3 separate regions of the Homo sapiens genome follow, and all the other regions are linked to region 2. The links come from fine-mapping of genetic effects on gene expression. A gene starts in region 2. Each other region holds a variant in brackets. All regions are shown on one strand. Distances are between the middles of the regions.

The links. PIP is the estimated chance that this variant, and not a neighbour inherited with it, causes the effect.
Region 1: its variant is the best candidate, but not a certain one, in a credible set for the expression of TMED3 in whole blood (INTERVAL, PIP 0.85).
Region 3: its variant is the best candidate, but not a certain one, in a credible set for the expression of TMED3 in tibial artery (GTEx, PIP 0.84).

Annotation. Positions count from the first base shown.
Region 1 is chr15:79,494,799-79,499,041 of GRCh38, reverse strand. No RefSeq gene overlaps it. Among named protein-coding and RNA genes, the nearest start is that of MINAR1, 65 kb to the right of the region's middle. The variant G/A (reference allele first, on the strand shown) is at 1,709.
Region 2 is chr15:79,308,704-79,312,946 of GRCh38, reverse strand. TMED3 (transmembrane p24 trafficking protein 3) reads right to left here and starts at 1,835. Exons shown (of 3, transcript NM_007364.4): 1 at 1,530-1,835. The coding sequence starts at 1,697. RefSeq lists silencers at 1,662-1,731, 1,942-1,991.
Region 3 is chr15:79,228,318-79,232,560 of GRCh38, reverse strand. The region is part of intron 1 of ANKRD34C-AS1 (ANKRD34C antisense RNA 1); the gene reads left to right. Among named protein-coding and RNA genes, the nearest start is that of MIR184, 21 kb to the right of the region's middle. The variant G/A (reference allele first, on the strand shown) is at 2,527.

The DNA of each region.
Region 1 (4,243 bases), 190 kb before region 2:
TAAGCTCCAGCCCACAGCCAACTAATTCCACACACCAGTCATCCTAGCACACTCACATAAAAGAATTTGGACAGTTTGTTGAAATTCACTGTGATCCTATTTGTCTCGGAATTAAAACAACATTAATTGGGTATGTGCGACAGTTCATTTTGGTTCCTTTGGATTGGATTGCTGTGCAAATGGGTAGTGAATACAAGGGAAATATTTAACCTAATTGAACATGAATATACTCAATTCCTGAGTCTTCTTCAAATCACTTTGGCAACTGTGTTATTGAGGACGAGTAATGAAAGTGCTGAACATAAATTTTCATCAATTTTTTTAAAGCACTTGCTAGCTTCTATAGCACTGATCAATATCGTAAGCCAATAGCAGCAGCATCTTGATAAATTAATTTATGTGATATGGTTGAATTTTTAAAAGTCTTTAACATTTTCTTGCCACCTCCTGTTCAGGAGAATGTGTGAGGCTTTGCAGCATGAGGACTCAGGTGAGCTTGAGGACCTCTGTGAGCTTATGAAGTCTGTGTTTTAAATGACTTGCAAGATAAGATGAGTTGTTATGCTCCCATCCTAAGGACAAAGCCACATGATAGGAATTAAGGTTAGGGGATTTAGAGAACATCAAAGCATTTTTATGCCCTTGAGAACAAGCTTGTAAACATCTGGTAAGGACATGAATTGAATTGATAGGAACCAGGGTTATCATATTAACTAGGATGCAGATGATTCATGTTGAAGCTTTGGAAATATAAACTTAGGTTCACATTGCAACTCTGCTTCTGACAAGCTGTGTCACCTCAGCCTACAAACGTCATCTTTCTTCAGCCCTGTAAGATCACCCATGAAGGATGATTGGGAGAAGATGAGATAATGCATCCAAAGGAATCAGCATAGTGCCCAAAACATACACTTAGAAATGTAATTTTTCTTCCCTTATGGAGCACTTGAGTCCACACATAATGCGTGTGCACAGTCTGTGGAAACAGCAAATTCAAGGATCCAGTCTGGGGGCCCATTAAAAAGGAAGCCTCCACAGAAGAGTTAAGGGAGTGATTGATTAACCACTGCAATTCATTATGAAGGCCAGGAGGGAAGATATCACTGTGACAAATTGCTTGGTTTTCTTTTCTGTTTTTACATTAATGCATTTGTCAGCACAAGAGGTGGGGAGAAAAAACAAAAGACGTTCTAGTGTCAGAGAACCTCTTATTGATTGGGTTCTGCATGACATTCTCATTAAGAATGAGAAGAGATGGTTTCTGTCTAAGTGTGAGGGCAGCCCCACCCCGGGACAGGAGAATGGCCAGGGTGGCTTCAGGGCATTGCCCCTCCAGCCCTCAGATTCTGTACTCTTAGCATTCCCCTCCTACCTTTTCTAAAGCAGGGATGGTAGGAAGAAAAGAGAGAGGAGAGAAGAGTAAATGAAAGCAACATTTTATTCTTTGACAATGGCTTGACTATGTGATAGTGAAGAGCCTCAAGTCTCAGTTTCTATTTCTATAAAATGGGTATAAAACCACCTACTTTTTAAAGATGGAGTATGTATTAAATGAGACAAATGTCACTTATCACTATCTGATACTATGTTATATGTTCATTGTCTCCTTTTTGTATCATGGGTCTCCTCACTAAATTAGGGTAAAAATATTGTGTGCTTTGTTCACTACTGTATTCTCAGCATCTAGAACCCTGCCTAGCACATAGTC[G/A]GTGCTTTATAAAAATCAGTCGAATTAATGAATGAATAATGTATATAAGGGGTTTAACACAGTGTCATTACATACTAAGATCTCAAGATTGGTGGCTTTTGGATGAGATCGGGTGTGTTCAGGGTGGCGTGGCCGTAGACTCAATATTGGTGGCTTTCAAAACCTTAGTGAATAGGTGATGGAAAGTTCATCTTGGGATCTGTGAAAGCAAGTTAGACTCAGCTTTGAATCCAGCCACAGAGTGGGTGGATCAGTGCAAGGAGGTGGCATAACACAATTGGAATCCTCAAATCCCAGGGGCATGAATGAGTCAAAGGTCACTGCCTGTGGGCTGGAGTTAGAAGAGGTGAGACTGGGGTCCTGGGTTGGTGTTGGCCTGTTGCCTCATCCTGAGATGGAGGCTCATTGCAGCTCTGCTCCTGAGAGGTAAGGGGGCAGGGGCATCAGGTCTTTTTCCCTGTGGGTATGGCCTCCCAAAGGCAGGGTGTCTTACACGGGCAGGGGCACATTGGAGAGCACAAAGGTGGTTCTCACTCCCAAAAAGTGCTTCTTCTTTGAAAGCCCTTGTCACCTACATCACTGCTCCCCCACCAACCCCCAGGGCTAAGTTAGAGCCTTTTGTTATGAGGTCCAAGCGCACCTCTCCTCTCCTACACACAAATGTGGAGAGGAGAGTGTGTGTGCCTTTCCTGAGCCTCATACCATGAAGCAGGGATGGCTTCTGAATGTTCCCTGCTTTATTCCCAGCATCTAGCATAGTCCCTGGCCCGTTACATGGGTTCAATAAAGTCTGTAGAGTGAATGAATGAATAGATGAATGAGTGAAGTACATCCCTTATATAGGTAAACAAGAAAACTCTTGTTTACACCCCGTGCCTCTCTCTCTCTCTAATTCAACCCCTGCCACTTGTACTTCATTAACCAAAAAAAAAAAAATGAGGTTATAACTCTTTGAGCACCAGGATTTCCTATGCAGACTCAGACATGCAGCAAACAGGTACACTTTGGGCCAGGAGACCCCACTGAAGAGTCCCAACTGTGATTGGCAGGCATCTATGTATTCTATGAGAGTTAGTTCCCACCTAAAGGTGTCCCTTCAGTCCTGCACGGAGATGTCTTTGTGCTCAGGGGGCTGGGGCCATGCTAAGGGGTGACCCTGAGCACCAGGTCATGGGGAGCAGAGCCTGAGAGCCTCTGGAAGCCTGTTAAATGCTCAAGGCCAGCCTGACTCTGTGGCCCATGGTGCAAACAGTTGATTTATTTCAGAGGGATGCATTTGCATTCCAGCTGCTGGCCCAGGGAAGCTTCTCTTTTCCCATTTGCCAAGTGCATGCACTCACACACCCCCTTACATATACTCACACTGTCACACCCACACACACACAACCACCCAGGCACACTCACGGACACTCACAGACACATGTACACTCTCACACATATTCACACACATCTCACATGTATAACACAGTCACACATACACTCACACAGATCCAAAGTCACACACACTTACATGTACTCCCAATCACACACACGTACACACCAATTACATATACTCACACACAACACATAATACATTCTCTCACACATAAAGTAACACACACTGATATATACACTCACACATATTCCCACTTTACATATACTCACACAGTCACACACTTAAACTCACAAACACACACAGAAACACCCTGGCCAAAATAGGAGAAGGGACAAGTGAGACTCCGTAATTCCTAATGGAGGCAATGTCCCGGCTCCTCCCCTGTACCTCTGAGTCTGAGGCCCCCAGTTCCTGGCTGGGGCTCTGAGCCCTTTTGTTAGGCAGAAACTGGGCCCCATGAGCCCCTGGTCAGCTGGGCCTTGGGCACTGCCTGCCCCACCCCCCTCCCTCATGCCCCACCCCGCTCCCTCCAGGGAGCCTGCCCCACCCCGCTCCCTGCTGAGTTCCCCACCCCAGCTATTGAAGACCCTCTCTCTTACCCCCTTCCCTGTCTCTCTCAGCAAATGATGAAATTCCTAGCTTCCCTGTCCCTTCCACCTCCCACATCCTTGGGTCATTCCCCCTCCCCCTGCTTCCCACTTCCCCAGCAGTAAATGGCAGCACGTCAAGGAAGAAATCACACAGGCTTTGGAGTCAACAGGCATGGGTCTGCCTCCTGCCTGGTCACCTTCTGGCTGTGTGGATTTGGGAGGCCAGGCACCTTTTCTGATTCCAAATTTCCTTATCTGTCAAATGAGATCATTTATATTTCAGATAAATAAATAAATGAGATAAAGAATGGAGGAGTGCCAAGACTGGTACTGGGGGCACCAGTCTGTGCTTGGTATGCGTTCACTTCTCTCTCTTTCTTCCTGCCAAGGTTAATTCCTCCATCTGGGCAGCCCCTCATCCGGGCTGAAGTCCCTCGCCCTTCACTGTATCAGTCAACTTCTCCTTCAAACACTGACCTTCTCTCCATGTGGCTTCTGCCCCTTGACCTGCACCCTGACACAATCTTCGCTTCCTAAAGAAAGCCTCGCTTGACAATGCAGTAAATTACT
Region 2 (4,243 bases):
TGTGGGATCTGATTTGGGGGCCACCCTAGAGCATGCATGCTGCACCTCCTGCTTCTCCGTTCCAATAACAGACAGGTGTTCCCCCTCCCCCCACCAGCAAGGGTCATTCTTGGCTTGCTGAATGGGTCAAGTAGCTATTAACAATATATTATTAATGACTGAATGCAAGGAGAAGAAAAATATTGATCGAAGTATTCATGGAATTTCTGAGTGTCAGCGGTGGAAGAGTCTTTGGGAATCATTTAGTTCAAACTCTCCTTGTAACATAAGAAAAATAAGACCCACATAAAGCAAAATCTCACAGGTAGGCAATGGCTATAACCAAGATCCATCAAAGGACACGGTCAATGGCCTCCATCTGCTTCCAAATTTAAATGGCCTCTTTGTCCGGACAAAAGTTACTAGTCCTGCTCAGCAAGCTTTGCAAAAAGCAGTGAGTATCCTGTTGCTAAGTGTGTTTAAACCCAGGCTGGACACACTTTGACAAGGGATTTCCGCCCTGGCAGTGACCAGATGACATCTGAGGTCCCTGCAACCACAGAATTATCATTCTTTTTGTCATTGCACCTAGGTTGCCCATGTTAACCCAGTCACAATTTGCATGTTGTCCACAAAGACCTGAAAGTGGACAAATCAGTGACTGAGACTACCACATAGAAGTTGTCTCCAAGCGCAAGCTTCCTTCAGTGCCTCTAACCACAGAGGAACTGGTCAAATAGCTTGCCCCCATTCCTGCTGCCCGTGGCCCCTCATTTCTGAAGTGCCTATCAGCATGCGTCCACAAGCAGATAGCTGTCTGAGTATGATGCCCACTTGGCCCCCAACCCTAGACCTGCTCACTAAATATCGGGGCAGACTACTCACTCAAGACCTGCTCCTGTCACCTGTGGGCCACGGGATCTCTCAAAGGAGACAGGAATACAGGAACTGAGCTTTTCTAAGCCATATGGCAAGAGCCAAGTCTTGCAGCCACACCGCTCCTTGTAAACACCGCCAGGCCTCAATGGCTGCACTGATCCCTCCTTTCCAAAGTGCCCATTCTCACTTCTGCTGCCCTCACCTCACTCCAACTTTAAACGCTGGAGAGGGGAGGAATAAACTAAAACTATGAGCCCACTTCCTCTTGCTGCCATTTTTCAGTACTCGAAGGCACAAGGTGGTCTAAGAGACTGGGGTTAGAGAGCCTGTGTCCAGCCGATCAGAACTGCCGTTGGTTAGTGTCTCGGGGGCCTGCGGATATCTCTTTGGCCAGCTCCCCAGGCTGCGGGATCCGCCCTGGCGTCCCCATCCCGGGCTCGCACCTGCGGCGCTGACTACCTCCTCGCTGGCCAGGCTCGTCTCGGGTGGGCCCTGATGACCCAAACCTTCCTCCTCACGGGGAAGTCAACTGGTCTCCGGGGACTCCCACCCCATGCAGCCTCCCTGTAGCCTGTGGCTAATTCGAGCGCCTCCAGTCAGGGGCTAGCCAGTGTCCAGGTGAGACCTGGGAGTGGAGGGAGAAGGGAGCGCTGCCGGGCGCCCGGCCTCACCTGGTAATCCAGGGAGAACTTCACGCCCTGCTCCACCTCCTCGTGGAAGCACTGCTTGGCGTTGTCCGGCAGCTCGAAGGTGAGCTCGGCCCCGCAGGGCTGCTCGGCCCGGCGCAGGAGCAGCAGCAGAAGCAGCACGGAGGCGGAGCGCGGGACAGTGCTGCCCATGATGCTCTCGGTCCCGTCTCGAGGGCCGCGGCTCGGGCGCTGCGCCCCCGGCGGGCTGGGGCGACGACTACCGACCGGGTCCTAGGAGGATGTAAGGGGATAGACGTGGCACCAGCGGAGCTCTGCGCTTCCGGGAGGGCCGGCGGCTCAGTGCGCAGCCGCGCGCTCAAAGTGGGCCCGGGCACCTTCCGCCCGCTGCGCGTGCGCGCTGGCCGCGCTGCGCCAGGGGACACGCCCCCCCCACCCCCCCGCAACGCCTCTCCCGGCTCGGAGGGTGGGTCTCCGCGGAGGGGAGGTGGGGCTCCACCTAGCGCGCCCCTACCCAGAAGAGGGAGAAGCCCTCCCCGCTGTTCTGCGCGCTCCCGGACCCGCAGGGCTGAGCATCCCCCCAGGTCGACCCAGGTCCACCCTCCAGCTGCTGCAGCACGAAGCACGTGGGATTTTACTCCCTCTATAAGGCTCCGCTTTTGACAGGCTCTGTAACTTCAGTCTCACACTTCCCTCGAGAACCAGTCTCCTTGTCTTGAAATGGGTGTGCCCAAACCTAACATCCACAGTAGTTAGGGAGCTAGGTGAAAGATAAGGGAACGCTGGGAACCCGATTAACACTCCTTTCTTCATTCCCATACCCTTCCCAAGGTGAAAGAGTGTGCGAAGGGGGTGGGGAGTGGGGAGAGTAAGTAAAGACCCATCATTACACCTGCTCTGGGAAAAACACGAGCGTGCTCACACACAAACGATCTCATGAAAATCCAAGTAAAGTCTCGCAGCGACTTCAGGTATATTTTGGCTGTCAGGCTCGTTGAAAATTCTTTTTGCACAAAACTGTCATTTTTGCACTTTGACTTCTTAAAAGCTCTGAAAGCAGATAAATTGGTTTACTGTCTTACCCATGACCACTGACTTAAGATTCTTTTGTATAATCGTAACTATAGGTATAGTTTTATATTCACTGTGATCCAATAAACAAAGAGAAAAGACGTAGATTGTGATGTCGATACTCAATAAATAACTTATTCAGGAGAGCATTACTAGACGTGGTATATCTTGACTTCAGGAAAGAATGTTACTGCCCATATAGATTTCCGCTGGCCACATTCACTATGGATGAACACGCTAATGTGTGAAAGCAATCTGTAGGCTTGGAAATAACATGCATGCATAACATAGTTAATAATATTGACTGGCTCAGTGACAGGCATGGAAGAGGTGTTTAGTAGTGTCCCTTAAGCTTCCTTCCCTGGCACGGTCCTATTTCACGTTTTTTTTTTTTTTAGGAACTGATAGAAAACATGGAAGTAATAATCATCTGATCTAGATGAACTAAGTGGAGAAATAAATGACAGATATAAAACCACAATTGGCCGGGAGTGGTGGCTCACGCCTGTAATCCCAGCACTTTGGGAGGCTGAGGCGGGTGGATCACGAGGTCAAGAGATCGAGATCATCCTGGCCAATGTGGTGAAACCCCTTCTCGACTAAAAATACAAAAATTAGCTGGGGGTGGTGGTGCGTGCCTGTAGTCCCAGCTACTCGGGAGGCTGAGGCAGGGAGGCAGGGGTATTGCTTGAACCTGGGAGGTGGAGTTTGCAACCTGGCGACAGAGCAAGACTGCGTCTCAAAAAAACAAAACAAACAAACAAAAAAAAAACACGATTGCCCTGGCACAGGTGGAGTGCTCTGCTAAGACTAACAAAAAGAAATTTCGGGCTGGGCACCATAGCTCATGCCTGTATCCCAGTATTTGGGGAGGCTGAGGCAGGAGGATTGTTTGAAGCCAGGAGTTCGAATCTAGCCTGGGCAACATAGTGAAACCTCGTTTCTACAAAAACAAACAAACAAAAATTAACCAGGCATGGTGGTGTGGGTCTGTAGTCCCAGCTACTTGGGATGCTGAGGTGGGAGGATTGCTTGACACCAGGTGTCTGAGGCTACAGTGAACTGTGATTGCACTACTGCACTCCAGCATGGATGACAAAGGGAGACCCCATCTCTAAAAATCAAAATAAATTCCTCCGGATTAAATGTTAAGTCTTACATTTAAGTTCCAAGAAAACACCTGCATAAGTTCAGGGGAGGAGCTGACATTGAAGAAGCTCTAGTCAGAGCATGCAGGCTGTTGGCTGGGACACCTCGGTTCTCCTCCAAGCATCCTCTTACATCTAATAGGCTAGATTACTTCCTTATATGGCAGGTTCAGGGCAGCATCCCAAGAGGAACTAGGCAGAAGGAGCAAGGCCCCTGAGACCTAAGCTTCAGACCTTTTCCAGTATGACTTTCTCCACATTCTGTTGACCAAAGCAAGTTCAAAGGCCAGCCCAGATTCAAGGAGGTGGAAAAATGGAATCTACCTCTGGATTTGAGGAGTTGCAAAGTCACATTGCAAAGGAGGGTCATACTGGGATGGAAGGAATTATGGCTGTTAAGCCATCTTCTATAGTATCCAGACTCACTCAGCTTGTCAATGGCTAAGCCAGAAAGTGAACCCAGATCTGCTTAATTCTGAAGACTACCAGCTTCCCACTAAACACACTGCCTCTACCCAT
Region 3 (4,243 bases), 80 kb after region 2:
GTTGCCCAGGATGGACTGCAGTGACGTGATCTCAGCTCACTGTCAGCTCCACCTCCCAGGTTCACGCCATTCTCCTGCCTCAGACTCCCGAGTAGCTGGGACTACAGGCACCCACCACCACACCTGGCTATTTTTTTGTATTTTTAGTAGAGACGGGGTTTCACTGTGTTGTACTGTGTTAGCCAGGATGGTCTTGATCTCCTGACCTCGTGATCCGCCCGCCTCGGCCTCCCAAAGTACTGGGATTACAGGCATGAGCCACTGTGCCTGGCCTCTTGTCATTTTTAACAGCCGATTTGTCTGTCTTTTCAGGTTGTCTTTTAGCAGTATTAGTACTTGCTAACTATTTGTGCCTACTATTTACTACATGCATGTCTGCTTCAGGTAATAGCTGGGAAAGCGGATCTTGCTTAACAAAGGATGATGGGGAAGGGCATTTTAGGGGCCAGCTTGTGCTGGAACACATTCCCACCTGTCTACCTACCTGGCCTCAACTCAGCCTTCATGATTCACCTGGCAGGCCTTCTTTCGGCCCACAGTCCCCTGGGAGGATATGTCTCCTAGTGTTTTTTATCATACTCTTAAGGCTGTAAAAATTCACCTTTGTTCTTATCCAAGTTTTAAAATTTGTTTGCAGAGTTATGCGAACTACTCTGTAATCATTCTTTTAATTTAGCTTTAATGGTTTCATTTTTATATTTAACTCTTGGATCCATATGGAATTTATTTGCACATGAAGAATGAGGTAAGAAATCCAATTTTTCCCCCTTCAAATAACTAACCAGTTTTCTCAACACCGTTTATGGAATAACCCATCCTTGCTGATAAATTTAACGATGCCATTTTAATCAAATACTCAATTCCCATATGTGCTTGAATTCATTTTTGGACTCTCTATTTTCTTACACTGGTCTCTTAGTTTATTTCTGCCCTAAAATTATATTGTATTAAATATCTGTAGCTTTAAACAATGTTTTTGTTTTGTCTTTGTTTTTGTATTTTATTGTGTGGGTTATGACAATGTTTTGATACCTGATAGTATCATAGTCATGTTCATTATTCTTATTTTTTAATTTTTTTTCTGATTCCAATTATGTGTTCATTCTACCAGATAAAATTTAGTTTAACTTACCAAATTTCAAACAAAATTCTCTTGGTAATTGGATTGGAAACACACTGAATTTAGAGATTACATTCAGAAATTGAAACTGCTCTATTGAGTACTCTTCTAAAGAAAATCAAGGGAGGTTTTCACTGACTGAATTATTTTTTCTGGCTTTTAATAGGAATTTAAAGTTTTTAGCATAGGGCCCTAACATTGATTATTAGATTTGTCCCTAAATATTTAGTTTGTTTCTATTGTAAAAGGCATCTTTTCTTCTGATATGGTTTGTGTGTTTGTCCCCTCCGAATCTCATGTTGAAATGTAATACCTAAGTGTTGGAGGAGGGTCCTGGTGAGAGGTAATTGTATTATGGGGGCAGATCCTCACGAATGGCTTAGCACCCACCATCCCCTTGGCGATGAGTGAGTGAGTTCTTCCTCTGAGTTCATGCGAGATCCAGCTGTTTAGAAGTGTGTGGCCCCTCCCCTCTCTCTCTCTCTTGCTTCTGCTCTCACCATGTGACACCACTGGCTCCCCTTCACCATCAGCCATGATGTAAGCTCCCTGAGGCCTGCCCAAAAGACAAGCAGATGCTGGTGCCAGGCTTCTTGTACAGCCTGCAGAACTGTGAGACAATTAAACCTCTTTTCTTTATAACTTCCCAGCTTCCGGTATTTCTTTATAGTAATGCAAGAATGGACTAACACATCTTTTGTTAAATTTTCTAACTGGTTACTAATAATGAAGGTTTGATTTTTGATATAAATTTATAACCAGGTGCTTTTTCCTTTCTAAATTTTTTACCTCTTATGTCTTTCTCATGTATGATAATAGGAGTTCTTATTTCTGACTTTAATGGGAATGCTTTTGGCTTTTTACATTAAGTTGTGATTGTTTGGGGTGGAGGATTATAAATTTTTGTAATGCTAAGGAAGTATCTATTTTATTAATTTTTTTAAAAACCTAAAATGAAGATTGAGCAATGGCAAATGAGTTCTTTGGCATCAGATTTTCTAGTATTGAGCCATGCTTACATTCTTGGGCTTTATTTATCTTTGTGTATCTTTCTTTTAGTGTCTTATGCTTTCTCTCTGCTGATATTTTATTTAGGATTTTTGCATTGGTTGTCATAATTGAGATTAATCTGTAAATTCTTCTTTTTTCCCTTCTTTTTTCTATCTTTCATTTGTATCAGAGTTTGGTATAGTGTGGTGTAAGATTCTCCCATCTCTGGCAACAGTTTAAGAAGCACCATAGAGCTTGGTACTGTGGCTCATGCCTGTGATCCCAGTACTTTGGGAGGCTTGATGGGGGTGGATCACTTGAGGTCAGGAGTTCAAGACCAGCCTGGCCAACATGGAGAAAGCCTGTCCCTACTAAAAATACAAAAATTAGCAGGCTGTAAATATGGAGGCTGTGAC[G/A]TTTAAGATCAAGAAGCTGGCATTGGTTTCTGGTGAGGGCTGCTGTCTGTTTCCAAGATGGCGCCTGTTGCTGTGTCCTCATATGGCAGAAGGCAGAAAGGCAAGGGGATGTTCCCTTCAACCTCAAGCCCTTTTATAAGGGTCCTAATCTCATTCATGAGGACAAAGCCCTCATGACTCAATCACTTCCCAAAGGCCACAGGTCTTAATATTATTGGTATTGGGAATTCAGTTTCTGTATGACTTTTAGAGGGCTCAAACCATAACAGGACACAAGAATTATGAAGAATCGGGGAATCATGACACATCCAGAAAGCCCTACTAAAGCTGCAACAATGGACCCCAAAGAAATGGAGATCTATAAAATGACTGAAAAATAATTCAGAATAACCCTCTTAAAGAAGGTCAGGGAACTAAAAGAATATATACAGAGAAAATTAAATGAAATTTGGAAAAGAATACACAGACAAAATGAGAAATTTAACAGAGAAATTGAAACAATAAAAAATAGAAATTATAGAGATAAAAAATATAATAACTGAACTGAAAATTTTAATAGAAAGCTTCAACAGAAATTTTGATTAAATAGAAGAAAGAACCAGTGAGCTTGAAGATAGGACATTTGAAATTATCCAGTCAAATAATAAAAAAAGAATGAAGAAAGCCTCCAGGAATTATGGGATACCATCAAGAGACCCAACATTCACATAATAAAAGTTGCTGAAGGAGAAAAGAGAGAAAAAGAGCCAGAAAGCATGTTTTAAAAAATAACAGCTGAAAACTTTCCAAATATAGGAAAAGACGCCAACATCCAGGTACAGGAAGCACAGAGATCTCCAATTAAATCCAACCCAGAAAGGAGTTCACCGAGATATATAATAACCAAACTATCAAAAATCAAAGACAAAGAAAAATTTCCAATAGCTGGGTTTTGACTCAGTTGGTATATAGTGTTTAAATAGCCAGTTAAACATAGAGTAAATAGTCATAGAAAAACAAAATGGTTCCTCCTCTCCTAGTAAATACAGTTTATCTGCAGAATGAAGATAAGGGCTTCTACATCTAAGGCAGGATCTTTACCTTGACACTATTGACATTTGGGACTGAATAATTCTTTGTTGTGGAGCACTGTCTGTCCTGTGCATTGCAGGATGTCTAGCAGCATCCCTGTCCTCTATCCACCAGATGCCAGTAGCACCCTCCATACCTCCAGTTGTGACAACCAAGAATGTCTCCAGACATTGCCAAATGTCTTCCCTTGTTGAGAAGCATTGACCTAGGAGAAACACTCCACACCTTTCTCCTAGGCTTCCCACTCACCTATTCCCATCAGTTGCCTTCAAATAGAAGTTTCAGAGTGAGATGTGTGGCAGAAGTGCTGCTTTGTAACAGTGGAGAAAGCCTCTGCTTTGACTTCTAGAAGCTTCTATCTCTGATGATACCTTTCAAATTTATGGTAAAAGCTTGTAATCCTTTATTTAGTTGAATGCTACCAATTTATTCCTTGCTGGCGTGTCTTCTATTTCAATTTTTTTATTAATTTTATGGAGAGGGAATTTACGTGTTCCTCTATACTCCACCACCTTTCCACACCTGTCTCCTCTCTCGGTCCCAGCTCCGAGTTCTTTTCACTGCATGTCTGACAGAGAAATGTCAGGTTACAGTAAAATTATAATTAGATCTATAGTCAGCTCTTATCAGATGGCATTAAACAGAG